2 separate regions of the Homo sapiens genome follow, and region 2 is linked to region 1. The links come from fine-mapping of genetic effects on gene expression. Tissue or cell type: fibroblasts. Region 1 holds a variant in brackets; the other region holds the start of a gene. All regions are shown on one strand. Distances are from middle to middle.

Region 1 (7,634 bases):
GAGTCAGTCTTGCTCAACTCCCAGGTGGCTTCTAATTCACACCACAACCTTCTGAGACTAAGCGTTGGCTTTAATGCCCAGTTGTAAATAAAAGTCTGGAAGTCTGGTTACTGCACGCCTTTTCACCCAAGAAGTCCTCCAGACGACTTCCTTCCAGCTTTCTCAAATTCAGGGCTAAGTTGTAATTGTCAATAGATTTTACAAGTCCATACCTAGTTCTGCCTTGACCATACACTCACAAGCTCATCACTAGTGGTGCAGACTGCACAGTGCTTCCTAAGGCCATTCTCCACCTGCCCATTCCGTTCCCAGCATGCATTGTGCCTGTACCACTTCCTGAAAGTCTCAGTCTCCTTGCTCTTTCACCAAAAGTTCATTTATCTGTTTTTTTTTTGTCAACCTGAAATACTTTAAAGTGTAACATACAAACTGTAAAATACAGAATTTTTTTCAATGTTTATAGACATATAGGCATAATTTATATTATTCTTTGTGAGAAAGAGTCTTGCTCTGTTGCCCAGGGTGGAGCACAGTGGTGCAATCAAGGCTCACTGCAGCCTCAACCTCCTGTGCTCAAGGGATTCTCCCATCTCAGCCTCTTGAGTAGCTGGGATTACAGGCATGCACCACCATGCCCAGTAAATTTTTTTTTATTTTTTATTTTTTGCAGAGACAGGGCTTTGCTATGTTGCCCAGGCTATTCTTGAACTCCTGAGCTCAAGTCATCCTCAAGCCTCAACCTCTCAAAGTGCTGGGATTACAGGCACGAGCCACAGTGCCTGGACAATTTATATTCTTTATATGTAATCTTAAATGCATTCATTCATCTCAATGAATTTTTACAAATGAATAAACTCCTGTAACTATCACCAAACTCAAGATACAGCACGACCAGCATTCTGGTTTTTTTTTTTTTTTTAACTTGCCAGATGGAGATAGAATGTATCTTTCTCATCTCTGTTGTTTTAAGTTTTATGCACATTTCCAATGCAGTCCCAGCATTTTCAGCGCTCCATGTCTTGACTCACTGGCGTCCATTTTAAATGTTTCCTGCTTGCTGCCTGCATTGATTCAATGTTGCTTTTTACCAAAACAGAGGAACTATAGTAAACTTCTTCAACTTAGAGCCTTCTACTAAGGGGGCTGAATTTATTAGATTGGTGCAAAAGTAATCGCAGTTTTTGCACCAACCTAAGAATTTTATGATCATGATTGCCACATGGTTTAACTTCAAAGCAATTCTGTGCTTTTTGCAGAGGGGAGCTGAGGCTTCGTGGAGTTGAAGGTGAATTTCCCAGGCAGGCGGGAGAGACTGTACTGAGAGGGCTCCCAGGGAACCCAGCTGCATTCAGCCCAGCACTGTCAGCAGTGGAAGGACTTACCTGACCACCCACAGGGGCTTGCCTTCCACAGGCATGTTCTCACACTCCAGCCCGCGTCAGACTCACCTACAAGGCTCTTCATAGCACAGGCTTCTGGGCCCTATCCCCAGGGTTTCTGATGCAGTAGGTCGTAGGGTCTCAGATTTTGCATAGTTAACAGGTCCCCGGGTGACGCTGGTACTGCCTTTGGGGGACCCCACTCTGAGAACCGCTGTGTTGCAGCAAGCTGGGTCCCAGCAGCGATGTAGGGAGGGGCAGGCTGTGCTAAGCCTCAGCTAACAGAGCGGCCGTCCACGGCTCCTTCTGTCTGAGGTCCCTACTGAGGAGGGAAGGAATTCTTCCCAGAACTCAGCAACCCAGGAGCTTTCCAGGGCTCTGGGTACCTCTTCCTGATCCGTGGTTCTGGAAGACTTGGGGTAAGAAAAGTGCCTAGGCCGCGAGGTCCTAAGGCGTCTTTATGGAGACATTGCCTGGGATCATGGCCAAGGCTCAGGCTTCAGGGGCAGGAGCTCCAGGCTGGCCATGCACTAGTTATTGACCGGGCAGGGGCAGGAGCAGTGCTAGCATGGTGCCTGGCACAGAGCAGCTGTCATACTTTGCACACGTTTTGGCAGATTTTTCTTAGATGGTGGTATGGGGGTCGTTGAAGGAGCCCTCTTGTGTGCTAAACTGGGCTTGGACCACCTCAGCTCTCCTGAAAAATGGGCAGGGACTGGGAGCCTCATGGGTGTCATACTAAGTCTGACCCAATGACTGAGACAGAGTAAACAAGGGGTGGTCTCTCTGCCCCCTGAGTTCACCCTGTTACTAAGACCCTCGTCATATTGAATTTCAACGGCCTGGTCACCCATGAAGTTCTTCAGCTGGACCGGGGTTTCTCAATCTCGACACTGTTGACACTTGGGCCTGTATAATCCTTTGCTCTGGGGGCAGGGCTGTCCTGTGCATTATAGCGTGTTTAGCGGTATCCCTGGTCTCTACCTACTAGATGCCAGCAGCAGCTCCCTGACATCAAATCACAACAGCCAGAAATGTCTCTAGACGATATCCAGTGTCTCCTAGGGGCAGAACAGCTCCAACTGGTAACTGCTGAGTTACACTGGGAGCTCCCAGGAGGGAGGAACCACACCTTCCATCCCTGCACCTCCAGGACTAGCACACAGTAGGGGCTCACTAAGGGGACATCGAATGTATCCAACCTGCCTGGTCAGATATTCAGCATTTCATGCTCATTATGACATTTGAGTCTCAAAACCACCCGTGAGGAAGACTCATGTGAGAGATGAGGAAACCGAGGCACTGCAGGTGGGACCACTTGCTCAAGATTTCCTGGCTAATTAGCAACGGAGGCAGGACTTGAACTCCATGCTCTGTGCCTGACTGATTGGCCCTAAGACCAGGGTGACACCCTCTGTCCTACTGGCTTGCTTCCTCAGCACAACACCCTCTGTCCCACTGGCTTCCACAGCACAGGAAAGGAGCTCATGCCTGTGTCTGGACTCATGGCCTCAGGCAGGTCCCAATTTCTTTGTCCTTCCCCGCAGTCTCTCCACGGGGCACTTTGAATTCTGCCAGGCACAGCCTCCCAAGTTCACGTTGCTTTTTGAGGAATGACTTCAGCACTAAAACATGTTTCACATTTAAGGTTAGGCAGGCCCTGCTTACAGCGGGAGCTTACAAGATCTCCAGCCCTTCTGGGGAAGGATATAAAAGGCTGACTTGAATGTTATGAAAGCTTAGGAAAAAAGGAATGCTAATGATCATACAAAAATAGAATGCCAAAGGAAGCTATTGCCAAACTGAAACAGGACTCAGATTCTGGGATAATGGACACATGAATCACAGCAAAGGGAAAAAAAAGTGAACTGGCGTTTCCCCTTTCATCGAAGTACTGATGATCATAAGATAAATCATGTTTGGAGAAGAATCAGAATGATTGGATTAAGTTTTACTGCAGTGTTTCTGACTAATCTTGGACCCAGGCAACCTAATTGAAAACTTACATCTGCACGGAGCTGGAGAGTTTGAACTCTCCAGCTTTAGTAACTCACCGCTGCAAGGCAGGCCCAGGCCCGGGAGTGCCTTCCTCCAC[A/G]TAACTGCATCGTTCTGAAGACACAGATCCAAAAACTCGATTTTCCCACTATGATTTTACCCAGAAACTTCTCTGAATTCGTAGATTACAATCAGATAATGGTCCATGACGTGAGCATCCCTTTGCCTGGCAGGCTGAAAGTCAAGATAGCCCTAGCTCCAAGCAAGCATTCCTTTTTTTTTTTAATGAGAGAAAAGAGGCAACAATTTTTAAGTGACCTTGCTGTTTGCTTTTGTGAAGTGAAGTGATCTCCCCACTGCTGCGATTTTAATAAGCCCGCAAGTTCTCCTAGGTGCCCTCCAGGGAGGAATTTCATTGTTCATCTGCACTCAATGTTCCAGAAATACCCTGCACCCATGAGCAAATCCTAACATGACTTCCAACTTGGGAGTGGAATTTGCCAAATAAATGAGCTGTTCTAACTGAATGTCCCGGGCCAAGGCTGGCTCCTGTGACGATGCTCTCTGCTGGGTCTACAGGCGGACCCTGTGGTTGACAGGCTCCCAGATGTGCACCCCTGGGCTGAGCTCTGCAGCCCAATGCCCCTCCCATCCACTGAACAGACCTGGACCATTCCAGAGGGGCCAGCTTCCCTCTGTGACCCCCAGCCTCATGCTTCCAAAGGAGGGCAGGAGATGACAGCGTGTGGGGGCACAAGGGTAGAGAGCAGACAAAACAAGAGCTCACTGAGAAATGAGGCAGAGGTGTTGTGCAGGTGCCAAGGGCCTGGGTTTTTGACTCCTACAGAGCTGGGTAGGAACCCTGGTTCTTGTCTTTCCCAGCTGTGACACCCTCAGCAAGTTACGAAAACCATGCAACCTCCAGATATCTCATCCATAAACCGGGTGTTGTCATGAGAATGGAATAACACGATGTGCTTAGTAAAATGGAATGTCAATTACATCCACATCCCTGAACAAATGAGTCCACGAAAAGCATGGTGCAAGTGGAATCTATAGTCACGTGTAAGTCTTGTTATATGCAAAAGCATTACTCCTTGCTGGGAGTCTCTCTCCACAGGACTCGATGTGCCACACAGACAGAAACAGTCCCCGTTGCCTTGTCCTTTGCACCTAATGTCACACCGACACGGAGGAGATACTCGGTAAACATTTGTTAAGGAAAGAAGAGCTTGGCACGGGTTCCCTTTTTCTTCCACCTCAACCCCAGTGCTATCCTCAGGGACCCCTCATTCCCACCTTGCTCTGCACACATCTCACCTGGCCCTGGCCCTGTGCCCTCCTGACACCTATTTGGAACATTTCCCCAACAAACTTGGTATTCCAGACTCAGAAACCGGCTGTCGGCATTGGTCCTGCCACTGTCTGCCTGCCTGCTTCCGGGCATATTGCTTCACTGCTCAGAGCCTCAGTGTCCTCGTTTGCTCTTCCATGAGACAGTCATAGTGCGGGTTTGCAGCAGACCTATGGCTCTTGAACTGTACTCCACAAAATCCCACGTGTTTCTCCCGCCAGAACCTCTGGAGGCCTCATCTCTGGGACCCCACCCTTCACATTAGCCAAGGCACCCTACTTTTTCAGTGAGCAGCTGCTGAGAAAGATATTGCTTCATTTCTAGGTGAAGTTTCGTCCCTCTGGACTGAGAGGTTCCTCCTCAATTCTATCTGTGCTGCACAGGGCCCAATTTGGGACCATGAGGGATATGAGATGTCCCAGAACGAGACCATTACTTCTTTCAGGACAAGAGGTTAATTCAGCAATGGGGAACCCTGCTCTCTGTGAAAGGCTTCCCCACATCCAGAAGCCGGCCAGGCTCATGTTTCCTTGGGTAGCGAGACCTCCAGAGAGTTTGGGTCTTTCCTACAGGACACAGGCACATGCAGAGATGCTGGTCTGTTCTAAACTACCCATTCTAGGCCAGGCATAGTGGCTCATGCCTGTAATCCTAGCACTTTGGGAGGCTGAGGCGGGAGGATCACTTGAGGCCAGGAATTTGAGACCAGCCTGTGCAATGTAGTGAGACTCCCATCTCTACAAAAAAAGAAAAGAAAAGAAAAAAGTAGCCAGAAGTGCTGGTGTGCACCAGTAGTTCCAGCTACTCAGAAGGCTGAGGCAGGAGGATGGCTTGAGCCCAGGAGTTTCAGGTTACAATGAGCTATGATGGTGCCACTGCTCTCCAGCATGGGTTGCAAAGTGAGATCCACTCTCAAAAAAAGCAAATAAATAATTTGAAAACATATTAAACTTTCCTTTCAAAACATTCACCATCTCCTGAACTTTGTCTTCACCACTGCCCTAGAACACCTTGCCTACTTCTCAGACAGAATGAGCACCGTCTTGCCCACCCTCTTGCCCACACTTCCTGTCAAGCCTTACACTATCCCCAGCAGCACCACTGACTTCATCACAAAATTGAGTGGCCACACGCCTTAGACCATGCAGGCTACCATAATAAAATACCACAGACTGAATATTTATAAACAACAAAAATTGATTTCTCACAGTTCTGGGGGCTGGGAAGTCCAAAGTCAAGATGGATTTGGTGTCTAGTGAGGGCCCACTTTCTGGCTCACAGATAGCACCATCTTGCTGTGTCCTTACTGGGTGGGTGGGACCAGCTAGCTCTCTGGGGTCTGTTTTATAAGGGCACTAATGCCACTCATGAGGGTTCTACCTTCCTGAGGCAATCACCTCCCAAGGCTGCTCTTTCTAATACCATCGCATTGGATATTAGGCTGCAACATGAAACCTACATTCAGACCACATAGATCTGGTCAATATGGAGATGGTTTTAGACTGTTTATCACTTACACTAACGGCATAAGCAACATCATCATAATGTCAGCTTTCCACATCCCTAGGATGACACCAAATTGGAGAAGCCAGATGACAGACATGAGGAGTGGGTTGCTCCATTGGGATATCTCACTCTAAAATACAACCAAGCACCTTTATAGCTGGAGCTATGCCCTAAGGGGGGCATGTGGAAAGTTTTACTTCTCACTGGAACCAGGGAAGTGGATAAGACAGTGTCTTGTGGCAGCCCCTCACAAGACAGGGAGCCTCCTATAGGACAGGGAAGTGGATGGAAAATGACCTACAGATGACCCTTACGAGACTGCCCTGCTTGCTGAATCCCAGGAAGGATCACAGAGTGTTCTGCCAAGACATGGGTCCGACTGAGGCTGAGACTCACCTACGCAGAGACGCCCAAGAGCTCCATGGGGGAGCCTTTCCCTACTCTGTCCTCCTACCTTCCTTCTCATTGAGGACAAGGTGTCTGTCCTCTTGTCTAAGGAGAAACTCACCCTTAGAACCTTGGATTTACTAAAACTCTCATTGAAAACCTATTTAATCAATGATCATCCTCTCTTCTGAATCTCCTTCCTACCCAGCCCCTTAGCCACACCTACCTTAAAAAGCACATAATCCACCAAAACATATACCTCTAAGTCTCCCCTGGCTCCTGATCCTCTCTGGTCCTTTCTGAGTGAACTCTCTGACCATCCCCTGAGTGAATCCATTCACACCGCAGGCTCCAGCTGCCCTCTTTTTGCTGGAAATGCCTAACCTGACTCCCGCCCCGTCCTCCTCCAAGCTGCTGCCATGGAACTCTTGCTGATGGAGTTTATCCACCTGAATGCCAGAAAGGCATCTCAGATCCCATGAGTCTGTGCAACAGCCGCGTCTCTGTCCCTTGAGCCTGCTGCTCTTCCTGCCTACACCTCCAAGAGCACGCTTACAGAAGCCAGAAATTCGGCAGGCAGCCTAGACATTCTTCTCTTGTAGCCCTGACATCCAGTATTTATTTAGGGCTACGCTTTGTTAATTCTTAAACATATCTCTTTTTCCCCCTGTACTTCCCTTTAGTATCACCATAGTTTTTGCATCAAGATATATAACCTCATTAACAGGTTTCTTTTGAAAGCTTAGTACTAAATATGTTTTAGTACTAATATGTACTATATACTAAAGTATTTTATTAGATAATTATTATTAGAAATAAAATGTCTGAATAGTCCTATATCTCTTTGAACGGTTTGAACTCATAACTAAGGACTTTCCCTCTAAGAAAACAGCAGCCTTAATCGTTTCACTAGAAACATATCAAATATTCAAGGAGCAAATACCACCACCCTTACACAAATTATTTCAGAACACAGAAAAACAGGAACACTTTCCAACTCATTTTATGAGGTC
Region 2 (7,634 bases), 120 kb before region 1:
CAAATGGCCTCAAAGAGCCACTGAAGTCTGAGGAATTCCCTCTCCAGCAAGATGAGTAGCAAGACTTCCCTGATGCAAGGCCGAAAGGACTGCTGATATTTAAGGGGAAAGACCCACATTAACAGGTCAAATCCCTACATCAGATCTTATTGATGGGTATTTTGTAACCAAACATTGCTTATATTCCAGGGAGCTCAGCCTTTCATTCTACTTCTTCTAGGCAAGCAAAAGCTCCATTGGGATTCTGCATTTCTGTTCTTCTCCACGAAGAACTGATTTTCTAGCATCCTGAATACAGCAGTTAACAAACACCTATGAGAAGTAAATTTTCAGGAGGGAGGAAAAGGCTCACATATATTAGATGGTGAAGGGGTCATGCAATTTCTTCAAAGTAGCTAAAAGTTCTCAGAAAAAAAAAAGTTTGTTGAGTGAGGAAATCTACTGAAAATCTGTGCACACTATGCAGAAGTTAGAGAAGATGTTTTCTTTAACCACACAGCAGGGAACAGGACAAATGTCTGATAAGTAATGGTCACCTTCCCCCACCCTCCAAGCCAGGTGTCTGGGACCCTGCTCCGAAGACTCAGGCATTTAATGAGAATACTAAAAAAATCCTTTTGAGATTTTTCTATTAGATGAATCCAACTGACTGGACAAAGACACCTGATTTATTGTCTAATTGTGCTTTTAAATACCAGGCCAAAGAAGAAAGGCAGGATAGATATCGGCAGCACCCGCACTCCACCATCTCTTGCGTTTCTCTTCCTTTCAGAGGACAATTTAGGCTTTGTGCTGCTGTTGCTGTTAGTCTTGACAGTTTTCTTCACATACGTGAAAACATCCCACATCAAACATTAAAATCACTTACAATGTACTGAAATGTCTAGAGATTCTTTGCTGATGCATATAATTAATGCTTCTTAGAAATGCTACAAATAAAAACAAATGCTGTTTAGCAACATTTTCAGGAAATCAAACCAATTATAATCGTATTGATCTTATAGGGAATAATGAGTTAAAGACAAAAAGAATGACAAGATGTCTGCCTAACGTGCCTGATAAATAAAAACAAGGTGTGTCCAGAATCATTCATGGATAAAATTTTTCCATATTTCTTTTCTCTTCTTTTAGAGTATCTATTTAATGAAACTAGCTTGTTTGAACTACTCAGTTATAGTCCAGTATGTAAAAATAAAAATAAATAGGCTCCTTATAGATCATCAGCTCTCCCACTAACTGTGTAATTATCTATTATATTTTCAAGGGCTTTTTTCCAAACAAGCTCTTGGCACTGTTTTTATTTATTTATTACATGTATTGCATTTTATTTTTCTATAATCTTTAATGGTTACCTATGGCTGATTCTCTAAGTTTTGAGGAGTGCGATTATTTTTAAATGAATTTTAAATGTTCCTACTAAATTCTAGCAGCATCATATCTACTGGTATTTGTTTTCAGTAATTTTCTGGAGGGCAGTCTTAACGATAATTAAAGTGACATTTTCCTTAAACACGGCTCAATGTGTGTGTTTTTAAAAAGATGACATTCCTCATCTGTTTGTTCTTATTTCAGATGTGCTATAAACCATGAATGAGGTAAAGCATAAATGGAAGTAACTAATGGAAGCTCATTATTTAGGCAGCAAAAACCAGAATTAATGTATTACCCCACTGTAGCGTTTAGTACTCAGCCAATCCAAACTTTCCTAGAGAAATATGTGATTGAGACACTTTCCATCTGTTTTTGACAAAGACAGGAGAAGATTCCCACAAGTTATTTTCTGCTGAAAATTATTTTTTAAAAACTATACAATTATCATTATCTCAGGAGGCTCTGCAGCTACAGAATTTTCAGTGACACCAAAATAAAAGCTAAAAAAATGAAATAAAACCCACCTGTGCTGGATCAGCTTTTCGTGGCCTCAGCAACAACATTCGCAGATATTATAGAACCACATAAAAAAAGAAATAGATATGTTTGGGAGAATAGGCGGCCGGGTGCTCTTGATTAATCTAAATTCCTTCTGTGTGAAGTAGAGTCTTTTATAAAAACATCGCAAGATGTGCGAGGAACTAAAACATACTAAGGGGGAAGGATTTTTAACTCGGCCCCAGCAAAAAGAACTCTGTGCCCCTCCATGGCCCTGGATGGCGGATGAGAGAGGGGCTCGCCTGCTCACAGAGCCTAAGGACGGCGCCTCCGTGGCTCGAGCTTGTCTAAAGGGACTTGGAAGGTGTCTGGTGAAAAGGACCCGGTGCAGGACGCCCTAATCGCTCTTCCAGAGGAAACCAGAACTTGGAGTGCTCCTGGCAGCTGTGTCCCCCGAGCCTTCTCCTCGCGCAGGGCCCGGCGCGCACAGCCTCCCTGTCCCCCAGACCCGTTTCCCAGCCTGGACCCCTCGCCCATCCCTGCGGGGCTGGATGGGCGGGGCCCCTCCCGGGTACTCCAGGGTCAAGGTTGGGACTCAGGGCTCCCAGTTCCTAGGTCAGCTCCACCTGCCTGCGGGCGCCCTGGGGCTCCGCGCGGCTGCGTCGGACCCGCCTGCCTCAGCGCTCCAGGCTCTGCGCTCTCGGCCCAGGGCCCTTCTCGGGCACACCCGGCCCTGTGGCTGCTCTGGCCCCGAAGCGCAGGGCAGTTTCCTCCCGTCCTCCCCAGGCAAACCCTGGAGCCGCAGGCCCGCACCTCTACGCCCACTGGGCAGGCCAGGGCGCCGACGGCCGGGGACCCCAGGCGCGAGCAGCTGGGTAGATCTGAGTGTCCGCCCGACGGACGCGCTCTACCCTTGCCCAGGAAGAAAGCGAAGCCATTCGCCCGGCAACACCCGGCTCGGGCAGCTTCGCGGGCGGCCTGCGCTGCGGCGGACGCAAAGGGCAGCTGGTCCTCATATCCCAGTCCCCAGCCGGCCCCAGGAGGTTTTTCTGATGCTCGCTCCTTCCACCGCCAACCACGGACACCCACACACCACCGAGAATGAAAACTGCGACCATCTGTCTAAGTATCTTCAGAACCCGCCGGGGGAGTCACCGGTCCGCCGGTTCCCAACTGACACCCTCGCGTGGAAGTCTGCACTCAGGGGTGTCCCTGGGACTGTGAGCGTCCCGCCCGCCCGCCTTCCTTGCTAAGAGGAAAAGCGCACGGCATCCAAGCCCCCGCGGCCCGCGGGGCCTCGCCGAGGAGACACGAGCAGGCCCCAATGCCCCTGCGCCCCTGCCGCCCGCCCCCCGCAGCGGAGGGCGCCCGTCGCGCGCGCAGCACCTACCCTGGCGCGCCGGTCCGGAGGTGGGTGGCGCGGCGCTAGTGGGAGGCGGACATGGACCACGCGCCCTCCATGCGCCACACGGAGAAGGCGTAGCTGAGGCGCTCGTGGGCCACGTAGCTGCAGCTGGTCATCTTATTGTCCATCTCGTCGCTCTGCAGGACCTGGTAGAGGAAGTCTATGTACCTGGCGGCCAGCTTGAGCGTCTGGATCTTGCTCAGCTTGTCAGAGGGCAGCGTGGGGATGATCTTGCGCAGCGCCGCGAAGGCCTCGTTGAGCGACTGGGTGCGCTGGCGCTCGCGCACGTTGGCCAGGATGCGCTGGCTCTGCAGCTCCTCGAAGGACTGCGCGCTGGGGCTGCCCTTCTTGCCGCGCTTGCCCGGGGTCGGGCTGCCATCTTCGCTCGACTTCTTGCTGTAGCGCCGCTTCCGGCCGAAGCGCTTGGGCTGCCTCTCGAGCTCCTCCTCGCTGGTGCCCAGGCTGTCCACGGGGGACACGGGCGAGCTGGAGCCCTCCTCCATGGCGCCCGCCCGGCGCGCGTGGGGCTGGGGGCGCCGGGGCGCCGAGCGCGCGCCGCTGGCCAAGCCCGCGGTCGCCGAGCACACGCTCTCGGAGTTGCTGGAAAGGCTCTGATTTCAAGGCCGGCTTGTGCAAAACCGAGGTCTCCGGGAGAGGAAGTTATTCTAACTTTTTTGGAAACTCTAGCTGGGCTGGGTTGCTAAATAGTTGTCAGGAGCTAGGGCGGCGCGCTGATTGGCCGCGGTGGCCGGGGGCAGGACAAGTTCTGGGGCCTTCGCCGGCCGCCCCCGCCCCCCGGCGCGGCACTTTCAGTTTTGCCTCCCCCTTCGGCCCCGGCGCGGAGGGCATCCCGGGGGCCGGGTCCTCGCCCGCCGCCCGCGCCCCCACCCCGAACGCAGGGCACTCTCAGGCCGCCCCGAGCCCTAGGCCCGGCCAAGCCTGGCTTTGTCTACGCCTCAACGTAGAGATCGGCCCCCACTGGGCTTTGGGGGGTTCTCTCTCTGGGCGTGAGGGGCTAGAGAGGCGAGTCCAGTCCCAGATGCGCTCCCAGAAGATGAGGACGCAGCCAGGAGCCTCCTCGACCTGTGTGGGTCTTGGCCGCCCCCGGGCGCACAGCTAGTCTGCACCGCGGCCCGCAAGCTTAGGCCTGGGGTCTGGGGAGCTGCGCGGGCAGGGGTCTCGGTGTCCGGACCGCCAGTGTAAGGACAGTCGGGGCCCCCTGGAGACGCCCGTGCCCAAGGACATGCCGCCAAGATCCGTGGAGATGCCACCCTTCGGCCAGCGTGCGTGTCGGGGACCATTTCTTACCCTGGCTTGCTGGGGAGCCCCGGCCCCGACGCCCTTCCCGAACCTTCCTTCTAACAGCTTTAAAACAACGCCACAGCGAGCCTCTGCGGGAGCGCCCGGTACCCGCCGCGCCCGCCTGCCTGGCCCTACCCGGGTTGCTGGGCGCGGGTTGGGGCGCCTGCCGGCCCGCCTTGTACGGCCCCAGCCTCTGCGCTCCGCCTTCGCTTCGCGGGTCAGCAGAGGACGGAGGGCGCTCCGGGAGCTGCACGAGGCTGCCCCGGGCCCAGCCTCCGCTGCGCTGGCAGCCCGCGGGCAGCTCCGAGCAGGAGGCTCAGGGTGGCTGGAGTGTGGGGCCCGGCCTCGGTGAGCGACACCACGGACCCCGGCCCCGGGCCATCTGGACGGCGAGCGCGAGCGCGTTTGAAGTGGTTGGGGGGCTCTTTGTTCGCCAGGCCGCTCTGGCTCTGGGCCTGGAGGTGGTTTTTACGGCTTTGATGCCTTTGAACCTATTCCCAGGTGACCCGGGCTCAATTAGGCCCGGGCCTGAGCCGGGCTGTCAGGCAAGCCGCGTGATCAAGGGCGGGCTGGGCCCTTTTATTGAAGTTGAACCCGAGACCGGGGAGTGCTCGGCCTCCGCTGCTCCTCCGGCCGGCCAGGCGGGCCGCGAGGTGGGGCCCGCGGGCCACGACCACCGCGTTGGGAAACCCGAGGACGGCAAAGAGCGGGCCCTTCGCGCCCCTGTCCGAGGGCCCTGGCTCCGGCCGTTCTAGGGGACGTTTTACCAACAATCCGTCCAGGAAGGCAGAACGCCTAGGAGCGGGCCCTCGCATGCATGTGAGTCGGTAGCAGCGCCCTGCGCAGTGTCCGCGCACCGGACCCGCGGCTTCAGTTCGGTGCCTAAAGGTTCTGCAGAGCCACCGCACCCAGCCCCACCCGGCCTGACCGCCCTCCTTCCTCCGCGCTGGGAAGGCCCACGGCCCCTCTAGCCCAACAAAATAGCTTTCCAGGTCCCTTTCTTTAAAATTCTCAAATAAAAATTTAAGGAACGAGAGAGAGAGAGAGAGAGAAGCCAGGTCCCCAGCCGTCCTGCCGGTGCTGGGCTGCAGCCCTTCCTGGGGCTTCACGTCAGATGGAAAGGGCCTGTTTTTCCCGAACTGGCCTTTCCCTGGTTTCTTTGCTCAGAGCAGTGACAGTAGCGATTTGCTGCCCTTTTACCAACCCTGTGTGGGTCCAAGGACCCAGATCCAGGGACATCTTCCCTTTCCCAGATGCGGAGGGCTTTTACTGAGGAGAGGACCTGCCTGGTAGCCTGCTTCGCCATCCTCGTCTCCCTGTCTGCGTGCCCCTGTGTCACTCTGGCTCTGTCGGCGTGTCTCTTTCTCTGTCCTTTCTGTCTCTTTCTCCAGCAGAGAGAGTTCATAGTTTAGTTTGAAAGAAAAACAGCTCAGCTTTGGTCCTGAGCAGCCCAGGGCTCAGCCCAGCCCTGAAGACCAGAGGCCCCGGGGACGCCCTGGAAGGGCAGCGCAAGCTGGATTGCAGGCTCACCTCTGCCTGGGGAGATGGACCTGGAGGATTTCACCTGCGACCCCCCGGGGCGCCCTGGAGCTATCATAACCAGCAGCCCAGTTCAACCGTCTGGATGCACTTTCTTCATGGCGTGTCTTGTCTATTTTAAAATGCTTTAACAATGATTATAGTACTGGAGGCTGTGATACTGACGGCTGCCTGCGGAAAACCTTGCTTAACAGAATTTGGAGTGACTTTCTTATGCTGTATTGCCAGCCCCTCAGAGTCATTACCTGGGCAGTGACCCCTTGCATACATAGGAGAAGCTAAGGCACAGTGGCATTTAGCAGCGTTTCCAATGTCACCTGTATGTTGGCTGGGGAAGTGACAGCATTCCCCTCTTTTGAGGAGGGGAATTTGCTGAATTAAAACCCAAATGAAAATGTCATCAATTTGGGAAATAATACTCAGGTTATTGATTTAGTTTGAGTTTTTCTTTCAAAAATTAAGTCAGTGATAAGGCTAATAAAGCCAATTTATTAATAGCATAAGTAATACAATATATCTCTGTGTGAATACTCTTTGCAGGACCACCCAGGCTCACTTGGACTTCAGTAAAATATCACGCAACAAAGATTCACAGAAGTAAATACAGTTCTTGGGGTACTTATTCATTACTGAGTATGGAAAATCCTGTGAATGCTTCCTTTCATATATGTAAAAAAGTGTGCTTTGTTTCATGTGACTTTGTGTTTTTTAAAAAAAAATGAACTGGTGTTCTGAAAGATTCTTCTATTGCACATTTTCCTTAGGGCAGCAAGTAACAGAAGGTGATATGTTTTCACAGCAAATTTGCCAGCTATTAGATTGGCTTTAATCTTGCTGCAGTAGAATGACACTGCAGGGATTGTCACCTGGGGATAGTCTTCAAGAATAGCAGCCAGGCACGGTGGCTCGCGCCTGTAATCCCCCAACTCTTTGGGAGGCCAAGGCAGGTGGATCACCTGAGGTTGGGAGGTCGAGACCAGCCTGGCCAACATAGTGAAAGCCCATTTGTACTAAAAATACAAAAATTAGCTGGGTGTGGTGGTGCATGCCTGTAATTTCAGCTACTCGGGAGGCTGAGGCAGGATAATCGCTTGAACCCAGGAGGCGGAGGTTGCAGTGAGCCAAGATCATGCCACTGCACTCCAGCCTGGACGATAGAGCAAGACTGTGTCAAAAAAAAAAAAAAAGAAAGAAAAGAAAGAAAAAAGAATACGACGCAATTATACAGCCCCTGGGCTTTCTTAGGATAAGAAACTGTGTACTTGCTCAGATGTGAAAAAAATTTAGTAAACTCTCAGGAGCTAAATAAAGCAATGAATTTATACATTTGAATGCTGTTGTCGCTACCTTTTGTCAAAATGCCTGCACGGGTGAACCCACCTGAGCTCTTCAGCAGATCCTTTTGTAGTTTAACTCTATGAAGTTCTTGTTGGAGCAAGAGACAAAAACCAAGATATCGTTAAAGGTCTAGTTTCCATTCCCAGTGACATGGTGGGTTGTTACCTCCACTTGAATTTAG

Evidence for each region. PIP is the estimated chance that this variant, and not a neighbour inherited with it, causes the effect.
Region 2: TWIST2 starts here. The variant in region 1 is fine-mapped to the expression of TWIST2 in fibroblasts (GTEx, PIP 0.98).

The regions. Positions count from the first base shown.
Region 1 is chr2:238,724,428-238,732,061 of GRCh38, reverse strand. All of the region lies in intron 1 of LINC01937 (long intergenic non-protein coding RNA 1937), which reads right to left. Among named protein-coding and RNA genes, the nearest start is that of LINC01937, 8.3 kb to the right of the region's middle. RefSeq lists an enhancer at 1,099-1,598. The variant A/G (reference allele first, on the strand shown) is at 3,475.
Region 2 is chr2:238,844,359-238,851,992 of GRCh38, reverse strand. It overlaps TWIST2 (twist family bHLH transcription factor 2), which reads right to left and starts at 3,908. Exons shown (of 2, transcript NM_001271893.4): 1 at 3,260-3,908. The coding sequence starts at 3,777. The coding sequence ends at 3,295. It overlaps LOC100287387 (a long non-coding RNA gene), which reads left to right and starts at 4,086. Exons shown (of 1, transcript NR_157851.1): 1 at 4,086-7,447. RefSeq lists enhancers at 2,397-2,907, 2,908-3,417, 4,951-5,461, 5,462-5,972.